Linked DNA regions of Homo sapiens. The protein of the gene in region 3 interacts with the protein of the main gene of each other region in a pairwise test. Each region holds a gene or a part of one and is shown on either strand. Other genes may lie near its edges.

Region 1 (4,779 bases), on a different chromosome or scaffold from region 3:
ACTGAAGTGATGCATGGACAGGGTTGGGAAAGGCTTCAGGGAGGAAGCGGCTTTTAAGCTGGGCCTTGGTTAGGCAGGGCCGCCATGAGAGGGATGGTGGAGAGCAAAGGATCGGAGGCAAGCGAAGGCTGGATGGATACAGTGACCAGAGGCTGGCAGTGCTCTTGGCTCATCCCCAACTCTGTACCCCGGCGGGTGGTGGGGACAGCAGTGGAGGCTCTACTCAGCCCTAACCCCAAGCCTACAAGTCCTTCCCAACAGGGACGATGGAAGGGGTTTCAATGCCCACCTGCCTCAAGAGGAAAGCTTTGGAATGGGGAATGGAGAATGGCAGGGAATCCCCAGACTTCAGGGGCGGGATATACCTGAGGGATGCTGATGGCCCCAGGCACTGGACGCAGACTCAACCATGGTGCTGGCAACTAGACCCTTGTCAAGGGTAATAGGGTCCCAAGAATACCAAGACGCTATGAGCTAAGGGGCAAGGGGGCCCCAGAGAGGGAGAAAACAATGACAGGGCACCAACTGGAGTCAAAACTCTTTATTGTCCTGCCCAGGGAGCCCTTCCCAAAGGAATCCACAGAGCAGGGGGGCGAGGCGGGCGGCACAGGGCCTTGGTGACAACGTGAAGGGGGAGCTGGAGTTAGGTGGGGGACAGCCCCTTCAGCTCCCTGATGGCACTGGCTGTGCTGGCAGGCCACCCAGGGGAGCCATCACCAGCATGAGGTCCACACCTGGGGCTGGGGCTGAGTGCTGTCTACACTGCTCTGTCTACACGGTTACTCTGGCACTTGTCAGGTCCACTCACCTCTCTGGCCTCAAACTGCAGGGGGAGATGGGTCCAATGCTGGGAGGCACTGGGAGGCCGTGGAACAGTGAAGAGCGGACTGCACGGGCTGGAGGATGCCAGATGGGCACACATGTCCCCCAGGGCAGCTGCCGGCAGGAGTCTGACAAAGGGACCCAGCCAGCCCCTCTGGACCATTCTAGAGGCCAGTGGTGAAGGTCCTGAAGCAACTTGGCTTATAGAGACACGTTAAGTGTACCCGGTGCACCCCATGCTGGGACCAGCTCTGGTCCCAGGGCCACCTTGACAGGTGAGCCCAAATGTCCTCCTCTCCCCATACTGGGCACTGGGCTGAGGCAGGACCCCAGCAGGTGGTGGCGGGAGCAGCTCTACAGCGGGAAGCCAAAGCCTTTCAACAGAAGAACAAAGGGGCTTCCAGGGCCGGAGTCACAGGCCTGGGGAGGAGGGGACAGGGTGCTTCTGAGAGGCAGGGAGACAACAAACCCCCACTTCATGCTGGTCCTCAGTCCTTCCATCCTGCCAGCCCCGACCCCCGGTCCACAACAGCAGGCCCAACCCTGCCTTTTGGGGTGAGGAGAAAAAAATCTGGAACCAAAAGGGATGGCGGCTGTTTCCTCGGGACCCTGGTGGGTGTGGGGCCACCGAGCAGCCATCACCGGAGGTTAAAGACCAGGCTGACGGTGAGGATGATGCCCAGGAGAAGGATGAAGGGCAGCCAGGTCTTCACGAAGGCCCCAACGCTGACAGAGAGAAAGGAGCGAGCATAGGTGGGCAGGGCCTGGTGAGCAGGCATGCGGCCCGCAGCCCTGAGCACCCACAGACCCCAATAGGGCTGCCATCCCTAAGGAAAACCCAACCACCCCCTCACCCCAAACTTGGCCAATCAAGGAAGCAGGCTGGGCATGGTTGCCCACTATGGGGGATCACCAGCTATGGTCCCGGGCAGGGGCTGCTCCGCGCTCCTGGTGATTTACTGACACCTCGCTGGTTGGGAACAGGAAACATGCTCCCCATTTCTAGGCCTCACTGGCTCCATCTATAGCCACCTACCTCTAGGGTCTCCAGCAAGAGGACCAGGAATTGCAGTTTGGGTATGGAAGCCACGTGTGCCCTCTGCCTATGGACTTCATAATGGGGACTACTGGGAGCTCTGGGGCTGGCAAGGGTCAGCAGTGTTGTGGCTGGAGCCAAGCAGCTGGGAGCCAGGGGTCTGGGTTCAACCTCTGTGTGACCAGTTATTCTCAGGGGACTTCTAAAAGCCATGCAGTACTTAAAAATATCCCTAAAAGTCTTCTTTTCAGAACCTCTTAATGATGAACGTGGCTAAGAGGAAAGCTTGGAGAGGCGGCCAGATCAGCACTAACCTATGCTGGCTCACGAGTCTGGGCTCTGCTGTGTCCATGCTGTGGCGACCATGGGCGACTCACTCAATCTCTCTGCCTAGGAAGGGACCTGTGGGGCAGTCATTATGAGAGGATCTATCTGCTCACTTTACCGGAGCACAGGGATCCGTAGAAGCCTCCCTGAGGAGCCGGAATCATTGCCTGCATTTCACCAGAGACAGCTGTGGCTAAGAGAGACCAAGGCAGTTGCCCATGGTCTCACAGCAGGCAAGAGCCAGAGCTGCATTTGGGGCCCAGGTGGAGCTGGACTTCAGCACAGCCACCTCCCTCTCCATCAGGCCCTCAGCTCGTCACTCTAGAACCACCACGGCTCCAACTGGCATCTGTTCCAACTGTCCTGGCTGACTGAAGGACGCTAGGAATGGTCTTTCTAGGATCCTTGGGAGAGCAGCCTCTGGGCAGTGTGTGGGTGGGCAGGCAGGAGGGCAGCTCACCTGACGTACTTCCCGTAGAGCAGGCAGAAGAAGCAGAGCGTCACCATATTCCAGTTGGTGCTGTTGTTGTAGCGCATCAGATTCAGGGCCAATGCCACGTGCGAGTGGCAGTTGTCACAGCAGAGATTGTGCTGGAGGCACCAGAAGGGCTGGTCAGGATGGGCTGCAGGGGAGCCTCCCCCCTGGTCCCCACCTGGGGAGTGCCGGTGCCGCCCTGGCCCACCTACCATGCGGTGCTTGTACTCCTCAGAGGCGTCGTGCACAGCCGTGTCCCATGCGTTGGGCCCGCTAGCATAGACCTGAGCAGGGTCCAACTTCCAGTACCTGGGGGGAGAGAAGGGCTCTGGACACTTGCTTGGCTCCTTTGTGCCCTCAGCTCTACGCACGTCCTCTGAGGCCTGCCCTGTGCCCGGGCCTGAGCTGGGTGCTGAGATGTACAGTAAGCCAGATCTGGGGCAAGTGTTATGTGGCAGTCAACTGTGACACAGGGTGAGGTGGCTGGTGCCATGGGGGATCCTGGGGGGATATGGAATGAAATTGGGGGTGCTATGCTCTGAAAGTCTGTGTCCCCAAGTTCATATGTTGAAATCTTAACCCTCAAGGTGATGGTATGAGGAGGTGGGGCCTTTGGGAGGTGATTAGGCCATGGGGTGATTAGCTCTCATGAATGGGATCCGTGTCCTTATAAAAGAGCCCTGAGGGAGACCCCTCACCCCTCCACCACGTGGGGACACAGTGGAAAGGCACCTCAGGCCCTCACCAGACACTGACTCTACCAGCACCCGCACCCAGGACTGTCCAGTCTTCGGAACTGTGAGAAATACATTTCTGTTGTTTCTAAGATACCCAATTGATGAGATTTTGTTATGGCAGCCAGAACGGACTAAGATGGGGTGTGAGAAGGCTTCCTGGAGGTGACACCTGGGTCCAGTATGAAGGAAGAGGGTTAGGCAGGCATAGAAAGAAGAGGTGGGCATTCCAGGCTGAGGGAACAGCTTAAGCTAAGTGACAGGCATAAAACTGTGCAGCATGTCCCATAACTGAAGTGACTGAGCCCTCCTGGAGGATGCAGAAAGAGAAACACGGTGATGGAATGCTGGCAGCTAAGGCTGGAGATGCAGGTGAGGCCACATCACGCGGGGAGTTTACCCAGCAGCAAGCACTCTCCCCTAGTCTCCCAGGCAGCTTGCCAGGGTGAGTGGCAGGGAAGCTGATGGTGCTAAAGCCCATAAACCTCAAGGTGGGTGAGAATTGCTGTTCCAAGCACCAGAGTGCCCGGTGGGTCTCAGGCCAAGGAGAGCTGGGAGGTCAGGGCGCCCCCTGGCTGTTGTGTAGGGGAATGGCTTGGTGGAGGAGTCTAGAGACCATGGCCTGGACTGGGGCCGCTTAGGGGCTACTGCTTGGAAAATGATGCCCTTAAAACTGTCCTTGAAGAGCAGTCTGGCAGCGAACACCTGGTGGCCCAGAGACTCCTGGACTACACTGCTGCCTGCCGGAGGAAGCCAGAGAGGGCAGCAGGAAGCCCTGCTCCAGGCCATCTCAGCTGTGTGGGACACCAACTCCTCCTCGGCCCAGTCTCTCCTCCCAGTGCAGCCTTGGGCAACAGGTCACCTGAGGACACTGATGACTGAGGCACTCTCACCAGGCCCACAGCTGAGGTGGGCACCCGAGACTGCAAAGATGAAGACCAAATGTCCCAAACCAAACCAGCAATAGCTCCCAGAAGGTTGAACGGTTTTTATTCTCTCCAACCAGAACTTTCCAGCAGAGCTCCAAACAATGCCTCTCTTCTACCTTCCATGCCTCATTTGTTCCCAAAGGGCAGGAGAGTGAGTCTAGAGGGAGACAGATCTGGGTGTGGGTCCCAGCTCTGCCACTTCCTGTGTGACCTTGACCAAGTCCCTTCCCTTTCCTCACCCTTGCCATGGAGTTGAAAATACAAACCTGAAGAGCTGTGGCAAGGCCCAGATGGTCTACAGGTAAAGGCCCTAGCCAGGGGCTGGTGCGGTACACACTCTGTATGGGGTTGCCATGCTCTGGTGGACCCTGGCTGACCTCTCCCCCGACCCCAAATACTCTATTCTCAGGGTGCTGGCCCCTCCTGTGCCCCAGAAGGCCTGGCCCGCCCCGGCAG
Region 2 (7,972 bases), on a different chromosome or scaffold from region 3:
TAACAGAACTGAAATATAAATTCCTATTAATTGATAATAACATGACAACACAAAGAAAACTTGCCATGAGACCAGCCTGGCCCACATGGTGAAACCCTGTCTTTACTAAAAATACAAAAAAAAAATTAGCTGGGCATGGTGGTGCACGCCTGTAGTCCCAGCTACTTGGGAGGCTGAGGCAGGAGAATCGCTTGAACCCAGGAGGGGTAGTTGCAGTGAGCCGAAAAAACTGGCCACGAAGTGATTGTTACCTTGATAAGTTACCTTTTCCATTCCTCTTACACTGGTAAGATTCTGTGAATTCAAATGTTTGCTTAATAACTTTCTAAAGGCACAATAAGAAAGAAGACATTCTGGGAAATGAATTGTGCACTAATTGTAAGTTGAGCTCTGGAAGAAACAGAAAAGAGTCATCCACCTGAGCTCTCTGGAGGTCCCTGCTTTTTGCTCCAAGGAAGCCACTACTGAGAAAGTAAGGTTAGATCTTTTATTCATTTATATGAACAGGGCTTATACATTTCTATCAGGAAGAATATCAGAGGATTCTCATCCAAGCAAACGTTGATGAAACATCATTGACAGGGTAATGACATTCTGAATGGAAAAAACGTGAACCACAAAGCTGCGTTGCAATGGGAGTGTAAACTTTGAGGGTGCAATGTGTCCCAAAGGCATGTTGATTAGAAAGTTTTAACACTGAGAGGGGTGTTTATTTAAATGAATATTATCCTCTTTGGGGAGTCCATTGGATCTATTTATTTTGGTTTTCCCAACTCTGTCTCATGCTGCATTGAAAAAGATACTTTTATGCTTAGGAAAAAAAAAAAAGCTCTACTGTAAGTATTCTTAGCTGGGCCTCACCAAAATGAATGAGATTTTTAACATGTATAGTATATACAGTACACTTAATATGTATAGTCTATTGTATATTGATGGAGCTGTCACTGCAGAATGAACAAGTAAATGGAAGATTTTCTTCACTAGGCTAGGGGGAGAATGTCAGGGGTATCTGGGAGCTAATGAAATTCTGTGAGATAAGTGAGGGTACTGTTTAAACCCCACCAGTTCTGCAAGTCCTCACAGAAAGCAAAAGGAGGGGCACCCAATTAGAACAACTTCATCCTTAGACAGGACAAGCATAGGACACAACCACAAAAATCATTCGCTAAACCCCAGAAGAATGTGGCTGTGTAAGGATTAAATGAGACAAAGCATATAAAGTGCTTAGTATGTAGTAAGTGTTCAGAAAACATCTTATTATTGTTTTGAAACATGTCCTATGGCATGAGTAAAGTTTATCTCCATTTCACTGTAGAAAATGTAAAGGCTCCAGAAAATTCACCAGTACCTTCTCCGCTTTTGTCTAAATTCATCTGTGAGAAGCTTTACTCACGCTTTGGCTGCCGGTGACTCACGGTTAAATCATCTCTCTCAACTTTTTTCCTTTTCGGTTTTTTAATACAGTTGCATATCACATGACATTCTGCTTTGTTTTCTTCCTTCCCCTTCCCCAGGAAAACTAAGCAACTCTAACAGCCCCATTACCTTAATGAATAAAAGCCATTCAGTGAAAAGAACTGGTATCCACTTCATCAATTAAAAAGCTAACAACCAATTCTTGGAAATTTTCTGGAGCCCTATGAAAATTCATATCACTTAGTAACCTATGTGAGCTGAAGGTTGGTGTCCAATGACTGCTAAGAAGATATAAGGAATGTTGCAGAAATATAAATAGACCAGCACTGAAATTTAATTAGGCACTGCATATGTTAATAATAAATTCAATTAATTTAGCCTTCTACCTATACTAGAAAGAAAAAAAAAACCTGGGCAAAATAATAATTCATTTTAAATGCTTCAGTTGGTAACCTCCTTTCCTGAAGAGTGATTTATGCAGTAATTTACTGACTGTGTCTTCATAAGGTTGTTCCAAACCAGCCCTTCTGAAATAATAATAACTTCTGAATGTGTGTTGTAAGAGATATAACAAATGACTTCCTATTAATTTTCATTTAATGAGTTGCCTATTCACATGGTAATTTTTAAAAATTCTCTTCTTAAGATAAACAGGTTATAAATACTGTGGATTACACTTCCATTTCACAAAAATCACAACAAGAAAATCTCTCTCATATTCTCTACATGATTTGCAGGTCAATCAGTTTAAAATGTTCTATACTAAATAGGCATCCATTTCTTTCCCAGTTAGCACAGCAGATCATTTTAAATTTCTATAGCCAAATGATTCCAAATTAGTTAAAAATGAAAACTGAATATTTAGCAGCAGGAAAGGTCTTAGCAGGAATAATGGGAGGGAGTGGGGAGCAGGAAACAAAATCATGAGAAAGGTGGCAACCTGGTTAAATACGGAGCCCATGACCTTGGTTCTTTTTATAAAGAACAAAAAGCATAAAGATCATTCTTTACAGCTTTCCTATTTCCCCAAGTTTACTTTTTTAAAAAGACTCCATAATTTTTTACATAAATATTAATACTTAAGCATCTTAATTGCCAATATTTCCAAAAACCTTAATTATGTAACAATGAATTAACTCTATATTATAATAAAAAGCAAGTATAAAATAATAAAAACTAGGAAGAAGAAATTGCTCAGAGTCATAGGTTTTTCATATGGTTCACACCGATTTAAAAAGTCCTGCAGTAAACACGGCAAAATTCTCAAATATAATTCCTCGCAACACTGGGAAGAGTCTGCCTAAAGCATTAAATAACTCAAATGCAATTGCTACTTACATGAGAACCGAAAGGGCCTTGCTCCCAACCCACACTGCCTCACACCCTCTCCGTGGAAAAGCCCGTACTGCATTTCACCCATAAACTTGTCCAGCTCCTGCCCTGAGGCATTGACGAGCAGAGCTCCCGTTTTGCAGAGGACAGTGGCTTTGATCCACAACGGTGTCCCCAAGGCTGTCACAACTCCGAGGGCACATGCAAAACTGAACACTCCGGCCATGCAAAAAATGATTTTCTTCTGTTGGCTTGGCATGATGAGAAACGGCTTCTGTGAGGGCGAGGTTCAAAAACAAGACCTTTGTGAGCAATGGGAAGGGACTGCCTCTTTGACTGCATTTATTACGGAAGCTGAACGGACAGCTCCCAGCTGAAAAGGCAACTTCACCATCGACGGTTCTCGCCAGGTTAAATGTCAGTAGATGAAGGCCTCATCATCACTCATACTTGGCTTTTCTCCTTTTCTGCTGCTTCTTCTCCCTAATTGGAAATCTTTGGACTAAGAATCTGTAAAACAAGTCTTTCAAACTGCCTTCAAGTATCTCCTCTGTGTCACTTGGTAACAAAGGTCGAAGATAACAGATGGAGTCCTCAGTGTAACTTGATAAATGTTTCCCTTCCTCAGCCTTTTGTCTGATTGGGTGAGTTGAAACTTTCAGAAACAGGCTTGAATCTGATGGTACATTTTCAGCAACTTGAGAAGTTCACTTATCGATGTTTTTATTTTTGTTTTTTGTTTGTTATTGTTTTTGGTGGTGGGGGAAGGAGCTTTAGCAGAGGTAGGGAGAACATATGTACCTGTATTGATAGTTGATGTCAAAAATTTTTAATTACAGCAGGATAAAAATATTAAACAGAATTTGGTCCTACACGAATATTAAGTGCTCTGGATCAACCATGGGTCCTTGTCCTTCCAACTTAATTTCTCCCAGATCCATGGTTTATACCTAATGTATCAATAGAGAATTTGATTCAAATTTTTCTTGGCATACAGAAATATGAAAATGCAGGAGCAGATATCTAGATTTCTAAATGCTTTCCTTTAACAGGCTTAGCTGCTTTAGGATAATAGCAAGGGAATGTGTTTCTGGGTCCAAGGAATACCAGGATCTGTAAAGATAAGGGCATATTGATGGAAAGAGGGATGGTGGTCAGATAGGTGACTCTATGGATTCATCATAAAAATGCACAGGTCTCAGCAAAGGTAATCTGTTTGGGAGACTAGAGACAGTTATGAGCAAAGATTAAGCAGCAGGTAGGTCTGGTTAAACGGTCAAGACCTGGAAACTAAAGTTCAGAATTCAGTAACAGCTTTTTAACTTTGCATTTCCAATGAGATTCCTCCTTCTACAGACACAGGACTGTGTGTGTGTGTGTGTGTGTGTGTGTGTGTGTGTGTGTGTGTGTGAAGTGTCTAGTGAATGTTTATTATATGCCATGTTATTGTCCTGAGCTCTGACCTACAAAGTTAATGTTTAGTAAGAACTTATGTCTGGCAACTTGTGAAGTATTCTACCTAAATTATCATATGTAATTCTCATAATTAGCATATAAAGTAATGAAGAAGAGGAAGAAGAAGAGGAGGGAGGAGGAGAAGAAGGAGGAGGAGGAGGAGAAAGGAAGAAGGAAGAAGAATAAGAAAGAAGAAAGAAGAAGAAAAAGCAATTATTCGTATCTTATATATAAGGGAATTGAGGCTCAGAGAGTTTAAGCAACTTGCTGAAGAGAGTAGTGGAGCTGGGATTCAAATCCAGGTCTTCTACTTCTGAGGTTGATGTTCTATTCCAAGCAAAGCCCCTGACCTTGAAAAGATGGCAAACATTTCAGTTTGGGTTGGGTTCGTCTAGGAGTAACAGGGGCAGACTAGCCCATTATTAGTTACACATATTGAGTGTTTGAAGAACACAGACATCAGTAAATAGAACTTTTTCAGTTGGCCAAAAGCACATGTGTATGCTAGCTTCTATTCTTTTGATCCACCTTTAAGCATGACAGCTTAGAGGAAATTAATAAATGAAGACTTATTTCACACCATTTTCAGCATAAATGAGTCTCTACATTATGCACACTTCGAAGGGAACTTTGAGGTATAGACTCGGAGTACTGGTAAACTTCTCTCACAGCTCGCCTCTCCTAGGAGTCGCAACAGCCAGTCTCGTTAAGGACAGACAACTAAGTATAGAACTCATTCTAGAATGCCAATGTACCTTCGGGGAGAAGAGGGGCAATATAAAACATGGCCACAGAAGAACTGGGCATATAGAAGATTCCAAAGAGGCACTTAAAATAAAGTTTACAATATTAGTAAGTCTTTTTTATTTTGTATAACTTAACACAGAATAAGCAACTCATCCCAGTTTATTTGGCCTTCCAATGAATTCACCACTGGATTTAGAATAATTGCTAGAACACAGAATAAGCAACTCATCTCAGTTTATTTGGCCCTCCAATGAATTCACCACTGGATTTAGAATAATCGCTATCATGGTCCACTAGCAAAACAAGGGGGTGCCAGTGCCCCTGATAAGTGGTTATTTGGGCATATATGTGCCACAGTCACCCTAGAAAACTTAGTTTAAGATGTCTAAGCAGAGCTGAGCTTACTAAATCAACATATTCTGTAATTGGAAGAGACAGAACATTTCCAAAGCCTGGGAGAAGAAATCACCTACAACTTAATCAATACTATTAATAACCTCTACTAAAGGATATGGCAAGAGAAGGATAGTTAGCATAGGACAGCGGTTTAATTAACCCAAACTCAGCCAAGTATATCTAAAGCTGTCCAAGGAGGAAAGCCTTGATTATGGGTGTAGAGAGCAATTAGATCACATCAGTTGCATCAGTTTGCATCAGTCTGTAGCGACATGTTCACTCGTCTGTAGAGACATGGGAAAAATAAATACAACATACTGAGTTACTCTTATATCCTGAAGTTAGGCCCTTCCTAATTTTTATTGTTGAAATTTTCTTTCTTTAATGAGATAATGGTAGTTGAATTTTTAATGATTTTATTTGACAAATTTAGAAACTGGCAAACCTATGTCTACTCCTGATTTAAAACAAAACCAAATCAAACCCACTGCTCTATGACATAAAAGATCCCTGAGTGGAAAGGGTGAGACTCACCCTTTGAGGCCTAAAACCTCACCCTTTGCTTTGACACGGTGGTTCTCAGTTTTGCTGCTCATTAGAATCACTTGAGAAGATTTTAAAAGTACTGATGTCTGTGTCCTCATCCCTGAGATTCAGATTTATTTGATTTTAGAGTATGGCCTTAGCGTCGAATCACCCCAGGTGATTGCATTGTGCAGCCAAGGTTGGAAGCCACTGCCCTTATCTCCTTTTCACATGGCTATCTACTGATTACAAACTAGGCTTTGCAGGCATCTCAGTGCTGGAATGCACACAGACATGAGCATCTGGGTCGCTAGAGAGGAATATGCTCATAGCAAATTAATAAATAGGCACTACCATTTACAGCTCAAACTTTCCTACATTTTTTCAGCACTAGGTTTCAGCATATCCACAACAAAAGACCAGGCCCCGATTCATAGATTTACCCCCAAATCACCATATGAATATCAATGGTGCTGTATCCTGTTCATGTGAGGCAGCCCCCCTCACCTCTTCTCCATGCAGCTTCCTTTCAAACTTCAGCATCAGCCACCCACAGGCTGCGTAGTAGTGTGTGTGATCCACCCTCTGAGAATGATATAATGGAACCTGGCAGTCATTATGCCTGACAGCCTTCTTTTGAAATTTCATCTTAAATGTCTTGAATGACAGTGATGACACCATTTTCCTTGCAGTCTCTCTGAGAATTTGAGTCATTAATGTCAGCAAGTTTTCACCAAGTATCCTGCTGAAATCTTTACTTCTCTCAATCTTAATAGGAATACATTCGGTGACATAAGAAAATGGAACTAGGCCTCCCCCTCCTCTGACCCCTTTCAGGTGCTGGATAATGATATAATTCTTCAGAGTGACTAGAGATTCTGTAGAGAAAGGAGCACAATTGCAGACTCTGTTTTCACTTCCAGTGTAGCATTTGTGCCTCTTCTCACACTAACTTGGCTGCATCAGTTTTTCCTTATAACCATTTGAAAACAAAAGAAAAAAAGCAGCCCCATTACAAAGGGATGCAAATTCTCACCTGGTTTGTTCGCCAAGTATAAGAGACAGTATAGCATGGCATGGGAAGATCCTGTCCAGGGTCTATTTCCAGCTGTATGGCTAAATTAAGAATTCCTTCTCTGGCATTAATTTTACATATTTATGAAAAGAGTGGTCTGGGCTGCATAGGTGATTCTCAAATCATTTTTAAGAAGAAAAACCATTGCCTCAACACAACTTGTGTGAAATAAGACAAAAATCGAGCTGCTATACTGGGAGGGTGGGTGATCAAGGAGTTGTCACTGGGCTCCCCAGCTCCCTACTCCCTACAGTGTCCTATCCCCAACGTGAAAGACAGCTTCGAGAAGCACAGTTTGGCTCCTTTAGTTCCCATTTAACTAAAGAAAAAAAAATTTAATAAGCCATAGAACTACAGTTTGGCCATTTGCTAGATTATGTCTCTTTTTTCTTTGCTGTGCTAACCTGTTAGCTATTACGGAATATTGCATTGCCCAGGGACACTGCATGGCTGATTATTCCAATTATTAATTTTTAGATTATTTAATGAGAGGTTCTATGTTTTGTCTGATTTGTCACTGGTAGTACTGATTTTGATTTTCCTCCAAATGGATCATTATACTCCAAGGCCTCTCTAAGAGAGATTCAACAAGGGTCTATCAAGCTTCCTATTCTAAGACAAGAGGCCTTTGTAAATCTACCCCATTTTTCTCATCTTTAAAGCAAAATCTGGCAAATTTGATTGACGTGCCTTGACTAATTCAAGTTGCTGGTGATCCTCAAGTAGCATTGTAATTTTCTAATGACTGTAAAGGAAAAAAACACTCCATGGAAAGAATTGATTGATTTATTAGAGAGAAAATTACCACATGTGCTAGACCTTGATTGCAGCTAATATTTGTAGAGCTAATTGCTTGAACTAGAGGATTAAAAGGATTGAGGGAAAGGAAGAAAAAGAAAACAAAGTTCTCTTGGAATACAGATGAACCCGCAGTGGATTTGGACTGAGAGGAGAGAATTCAGTACAGGGATTTTTGGGGCTGATGATGGTTGTGGAGACATTTAGAATAAGTGAAAGAATTGTGCT
Region 3 (5,152 bases):
CCCACCCTTCACCCTCTGATAGGTCCCAGTGTCTGTTGTTCCCCTCTATGTATCTTTTTTCAGGTGACATGCATCTGGAGAATAGTACACATAGCCTTCAGTGTAAGAAAAAGCAAACCAGAGTTCACTTCACCCTTAGGCACATAAGAAAAGTTCTTTCTTTTTCCTTTCATCACAATGGCAGAGTGAAAGGCAAAAGATGTGTGAGGCTGAGTAGAGACTGAATGTGATTAAGTGTCACTAGACTGGTCAGCTTTCTATCTAAAAGCCATTGCAGCTAATTTCCCAATTCATATTCATGTAGGAACATAAGACAGAAATACCGAACACATGGAAGGGGCTGTTCAGAAGGTGAGATGTTACAGAGAAGTCTACATACCACGCATACCAATCAACCTGAGTGAACAAACATCACTATACCCCTATGAAATTAGATGTATAGAAACTTCCTTAGAGTAGTCTGAAACTTTAGGGTTTGTCAACATTGTTTAACAAAGCCACAATTTAGGAAAAAAAACCAACAATTATATGCATATACTTTTAATGAAGGATATAGGAAGATAAAGCTGGCCAGCATTTGTCAATATTTCTGCACCAAGACACATGGTTTTAAGAATACTATATACAATCATTTTGAGCAGATTGGTGGGAAAAATAATTGTAGCAGATTGGCAACCTATGCTTAACTTCTGAGGTCTCCTTTTCTGGCACTCTAATATAGTTCATATATTACCAAGACCCACTGCCAGCTTTCCTTTTATGTTCCTTCACTGATTAAGCCAGCAGAGTGAAAGTAATTATTCCTTGAATGCATCTTATCTAATTTTTTTTTCCTTTAATGCCATTCCCTACTAACAATCTATTTCCTGGTATATTGAATTCATTGTTGGTTTTAACTCATTCTGCTGATGGCTGTGTACCATCCTGCTACAAAGAACACATTTAATGGTTTTGAACACTGTGCAGGACACAGACCTAACCCTTTTAGGGAAGTAAACAGTCATGGGTTGCATGCTACTAGGAGCCACCCATTCATTATTATATAATACCCGCATGCAAAAGGCTACAATTTAATATGGTACATTACAGCTATGGTTAAAGAAATGCAGATGTACCATACCTCATCAACCAATTCCTAACGAGATGGAACTCATTAATTTTCTAAGAATATGGATCTTGTCCAAGGGCCTGACAATCTCATTAGATGCCCCCTGTGCTTCTCCATAGAACGTCTTCTGTACCGAATCTCTTAGCTACTCTGAGAGCAGAGATTCTGGAATGTATAAATCTAATGTTCTTCACATGCTGTGTTTCTTAGACTCTTTTTCTAAAAGGAGAAAACAGATAATCATTCTTTTAAATTAAAGTATTTGCTCCTGCTGAAGAGGCAGCCTGCTTTGGAGAAAATGTGTATGTGTGTGTGTGTGTGTGTGTGTGTGTGTGTACATGTGCATACATGTATGTAGATATGTGTGATGAGAGGTGAAAAGAATAGGCTTTCAATGACTGTTACATTCCTATGAATTTGGGCCCTGTTAAATTAATTTTAGGTTCATGTTACAATAATGTATAATATTCAGTATTCTTAAAACTTACTTGCTAGGATTGTGCTTAAATCTCCATTAACCTCAATGTCTATACTTTGTGCAATTTGGTATAAACATGGAGTGCATTCTTTACCTTGGCAATGTCTGCCCTGAGATTGGGCTCTATGGTGCCACAGGAGGTAATGGCACTGGTTGATGCCACATAGTGTGAAAAATATGTGTCACATGGGGCTAGTAGGGGAAAGAGGCACATATTGCATTCTTATCACATAGAAAGTAAGAGTTGTACAAATTGCATACTTTTCAGATTTTTGACAAAATGTGACTCTTTCAGAATGTGATCCTGTTGTAATTACTCTCAAAATTCTAACTGCTCCATGATAATTCCAGTCCTGGGAAGCCAAGTTACTTTAACAATGTACTGAACATGGTAACTGTGAGCCCTGCATAAGACAGCTGTGTTCCATTGGGGACCACTTAATCTCTTTTCCCCTTAATTTTTCCAGCTGTACCATGGGGAACAATTTTTTTATTCTGTCTCTTTCTGAGGACGCTGTTGGAGTGAATGGAAGAACATTAACAAAGTGCTCTAAGTCCTGCAAGAACAAATCAGCAATGAGAGCATGGACAAAAGAATGGAGTACATTATTTTGCTTAGAAATACTGTATGGTTAAGCTTTTCATTCCAGTCCTATAATTAAAGACATATAAGAGCACTAGAAAGTGACATAGCACCCTTCAGCAGTAGGATCCTAACAATGAGTATCTTCATTTTGCAAACGGAGAAAATGAGTATCAACAATTAGGGAATGAGATTCCACAGAGGTTATTGGACAGGGATCCAAAGAAAAGCAAGCAAAGAAGCCAGATCAGGGTGTGCTAATTATTAAATAAAGTTCTGTATTCTTGATTAATAATCAACCAGTTGGGTACCTATGTACATTAGTCAATACTCAAATGATCCATGGATAGGGATATTATCAGAGTCTATAAACCAATGAGACCAAAATGCTAAGATAGGAATAGGTTTTCTTTTTATCTCTGAGCCCCTGGTAAAACCCTGATTTATTTGGCTTTTTTTTTTTTTTTTTTTTTTTTTGAGACAGAGTTTCACTCTTATTGCCCAGGCCGGAGTGCAATGGCACGATCTCAGCTCACCACAACCTCTACCTCCCAGGTTCAAGCGATTCTCCTGCCTCAGCCTCCTGAGTAGCTGGGATTACAGTCATGCACCAACACTCCTGGCTAATTTTTGTATTTTTAGTAGAGACAGGGTTTCTCCATGTTGGTCAGGCTGGTCTTGAACTCCCGACCTCAGGTGGTCCGGCCGCCTTGGGCTCCCAAAATGTTGGGATTACAGGTGTGAGCCACTGCGCCCAGCCTTATTTGGCCTTTTAAAGACAGTGTAAATCTGTAAGACATTAAACAATCAGCTTTGCATTACATCTTTCCTGAGCTTTACCTCTCCGGAACTTCCTTATAGTTAACTGACACTATATTTTGTGACTTGACTTCTGTGGGAGCTGAGTGCTGATACACCCTATGCATCAAAGAAGTTCTTGATGTTTTTCTGACTTTGAATCACAGTTAACAGCTGCTCTGCCTGAATGCTTGGCAGAAGATGATTGATGGGAAAGAGGAAGATTACTTTGAGGCCTACTTGCTGTGTAGTAAGTAAAGGCCATACATGTAGAAAAAGGTGCATATCTATATGAATAGAAGACAAGGCTTGTCTGTCATAAAACCATGGGAATGGCCAAATAAGGTTTCAGGAAAAACCGAAATGAGAGTATTTTGAGAAAGAGTGTAAGGGGAAATTTTTTTCCATCTGAATATATAAGAAGATTTCATCTTGAAACCCAGTGTGTGCATAGTCATCTAGGCTGCTTTTTAGCTTCTGAGTTTGAGAAAGTCACTAGCCCTAATAAGTGTAGTCATGTCTAGTATTCTCTCAAATGTAATGCTGACCACAATCCATTTAATTTATGCCAAAAGTCTCACCTTGGTCAAAATTACCTAGGGATCCAGATGAACAGGTTTTGTTGTTGCTTTAAGTAGCTGGATTGTTCACTTTCTCAGCTCCACTGGAACCCCAACACTAAATTGTGGCAGGCAACTCTTTTTTACTCAAACATATTTCAGGGAAGATAAATTAGTAAGCCAAACCATCCCTCTAGAAGCTCAATTCCTTGATACCTGTAAGATGCTTCTAAATTCCACTGATCTCTAAAAGAGTTGGAGCTTTTATTGTCAGCAGCTGGGCACTAGACTGCTGGATGAAAAAATGAAAGATATCAATACTCTTAAGATATTATTATTGTAAAGAATCAGTACTAGTATTCTCACTCATTGATTCAGGCACTAGGACTAAAAGAAAGGCTGATTATAAATAAATGGGGAAATTGATGCAAACTGTATTAATGGCTTAGCTACTACTGAAGCTAAAAAAAGAAGAAAGAACTGGCATATTACTATTTGGTTATCACTGTCTGTACAATAGCCCCTGCTATGAAAACACAGCTCTTTAGTGCTAATCCTCAGGCTAATGTCAGCTGTGAAACTTTACCCTTATGAAAGGCAGTGAAATTAAACCTGAAAATCACTCTGAAAACCCTTAACAAAACCTATGGGCCATAACTTAGGCTTATAGATTTTCTTTCATCATAAAATAACTCATAAAGGCTAAAATAAAACTAGGAAGCAGATAAATGAATAAAAGTAATTGGAGAATTTTACTGCACCCTGACAAAAAAGTCTTTAAAAAACACTGGTTATTATGTTCAATAAAGTTTATGTCCTGAATTTGATCTTCTTGAGTAGCTGTGGTGCTTTCAGGAACATTTGTGACAGAACAGGTTTTACATTGTTGTTCAAATTCCAATTTGAGGACCTTGGTCACAGTGTACTGATTCACCCTCCCAAATTTTAGATACTTGATATAGCGATGATTCAAAGTCTAGCAAATATTTAAGTTGCTATTTAGAGGAAAAGCATAATTAAACAAAGGCTTCAGGTTTTTAGCCCTGATTTTCACACTATAGCAGAATTTTGTATAGATATGCTGTACGTGTTCACAAATGCACACGCACACAAGCAGCAAATGTAGTTTGATTCCCTTCAACACCAAAAAGGCCCTATATATGTGATTAATAATCTTTGTGGGGGAATTAAAGACTCTAAGGAAATTTTCTGAATTTCCTTTTACCTGATAAGATGAATGAAAAGATATATTTTACATTTAGGCTTTCATGGATTGGGGGAGGGGAAATGAAGAAACAAAAAAAATTGGCTTGAATTAACTGCTACCAAATTCCAAATTGGATTTCAGTCAGTAAATTAAATAACATAAAGTCCAGAAACATTTACACAGCAAGTATTTGATGGAATTCTTTCAAATTTTGAAGCTTTCAATCCAACACGGTGACTTATTTTGAAGATTACAATGATTTCCAACATTGAACTCTGTAAGCCTCATGGGAGGCAGAGATGGTGAGTCCTGGGAATGAAGAGAAGAAATTCACAGATGAGCTGAACAACTGTAAATATTCATGTGGTAACACCCACTTGACAATAATATGCAACCATTAAAATTACATTTATGAAGA

Evidence for each region. Proteins that work in one complex are often made in the same cells at the same time.
Region 1: the proteins of ZDHHC15 (region 3) and TMEM222 interact in binary tests that used the Homo sapiens proteins (3 or more experiments, as listed by UniProt).
Region 2: the proteins of ZDHHC15 (region 3) and CLRN1 interact in binary tests that used the Homo sapiens proteins (3 or more experiments, as listed by UniProt).

The regions. Positions count from the first base shown.
Region 1 is NC_000001.11:27,332,148-27,336,926, reverse strand, and holds the end of TMEM222 (transmembrane protein 222), read right to left. Parts: intron 2,970-4,779; coding exon 2,873-2,969; intron 2,777-2,872; coding exon 2,646-2,776; intron 2,261-2,645; exon of another isoform or gene 2,173-2,260; intron 1,549-2,172; coding exon 1,461-1,548; 3' UTR 527-1,460; downstream 1-526.
Region 2 is NC_000003.12:150,969,702-150,977,673, forward strand, and holds the start of CLRN1 (clarin-1), read right to left. Parts: upstream 3,027-7,972; 5' UTR 3,008-3,026; coding exon 2,755-3,007; intron 1-2,754. UniProt on the Homo sapiens protein: May have a role in the excitatory ribbon synapse junctions between hair cells and cochlear ganglion cells and presumably also in analogous synapses within the retina.
Region 3 is NC_000023.11:75,367,903-75,373,054, forward strand, and holds the end of ZDHHC15 (palmitoyltransferase ZDHHC15), read right to left. Parts: intron 5,044-5,152; 3' UTR 525-5,043; downstream 1-524. UniProt on the Homo sapiens protein: Palmitoyltransferase that catalyzes the addition of palmitate onto various protein substrates.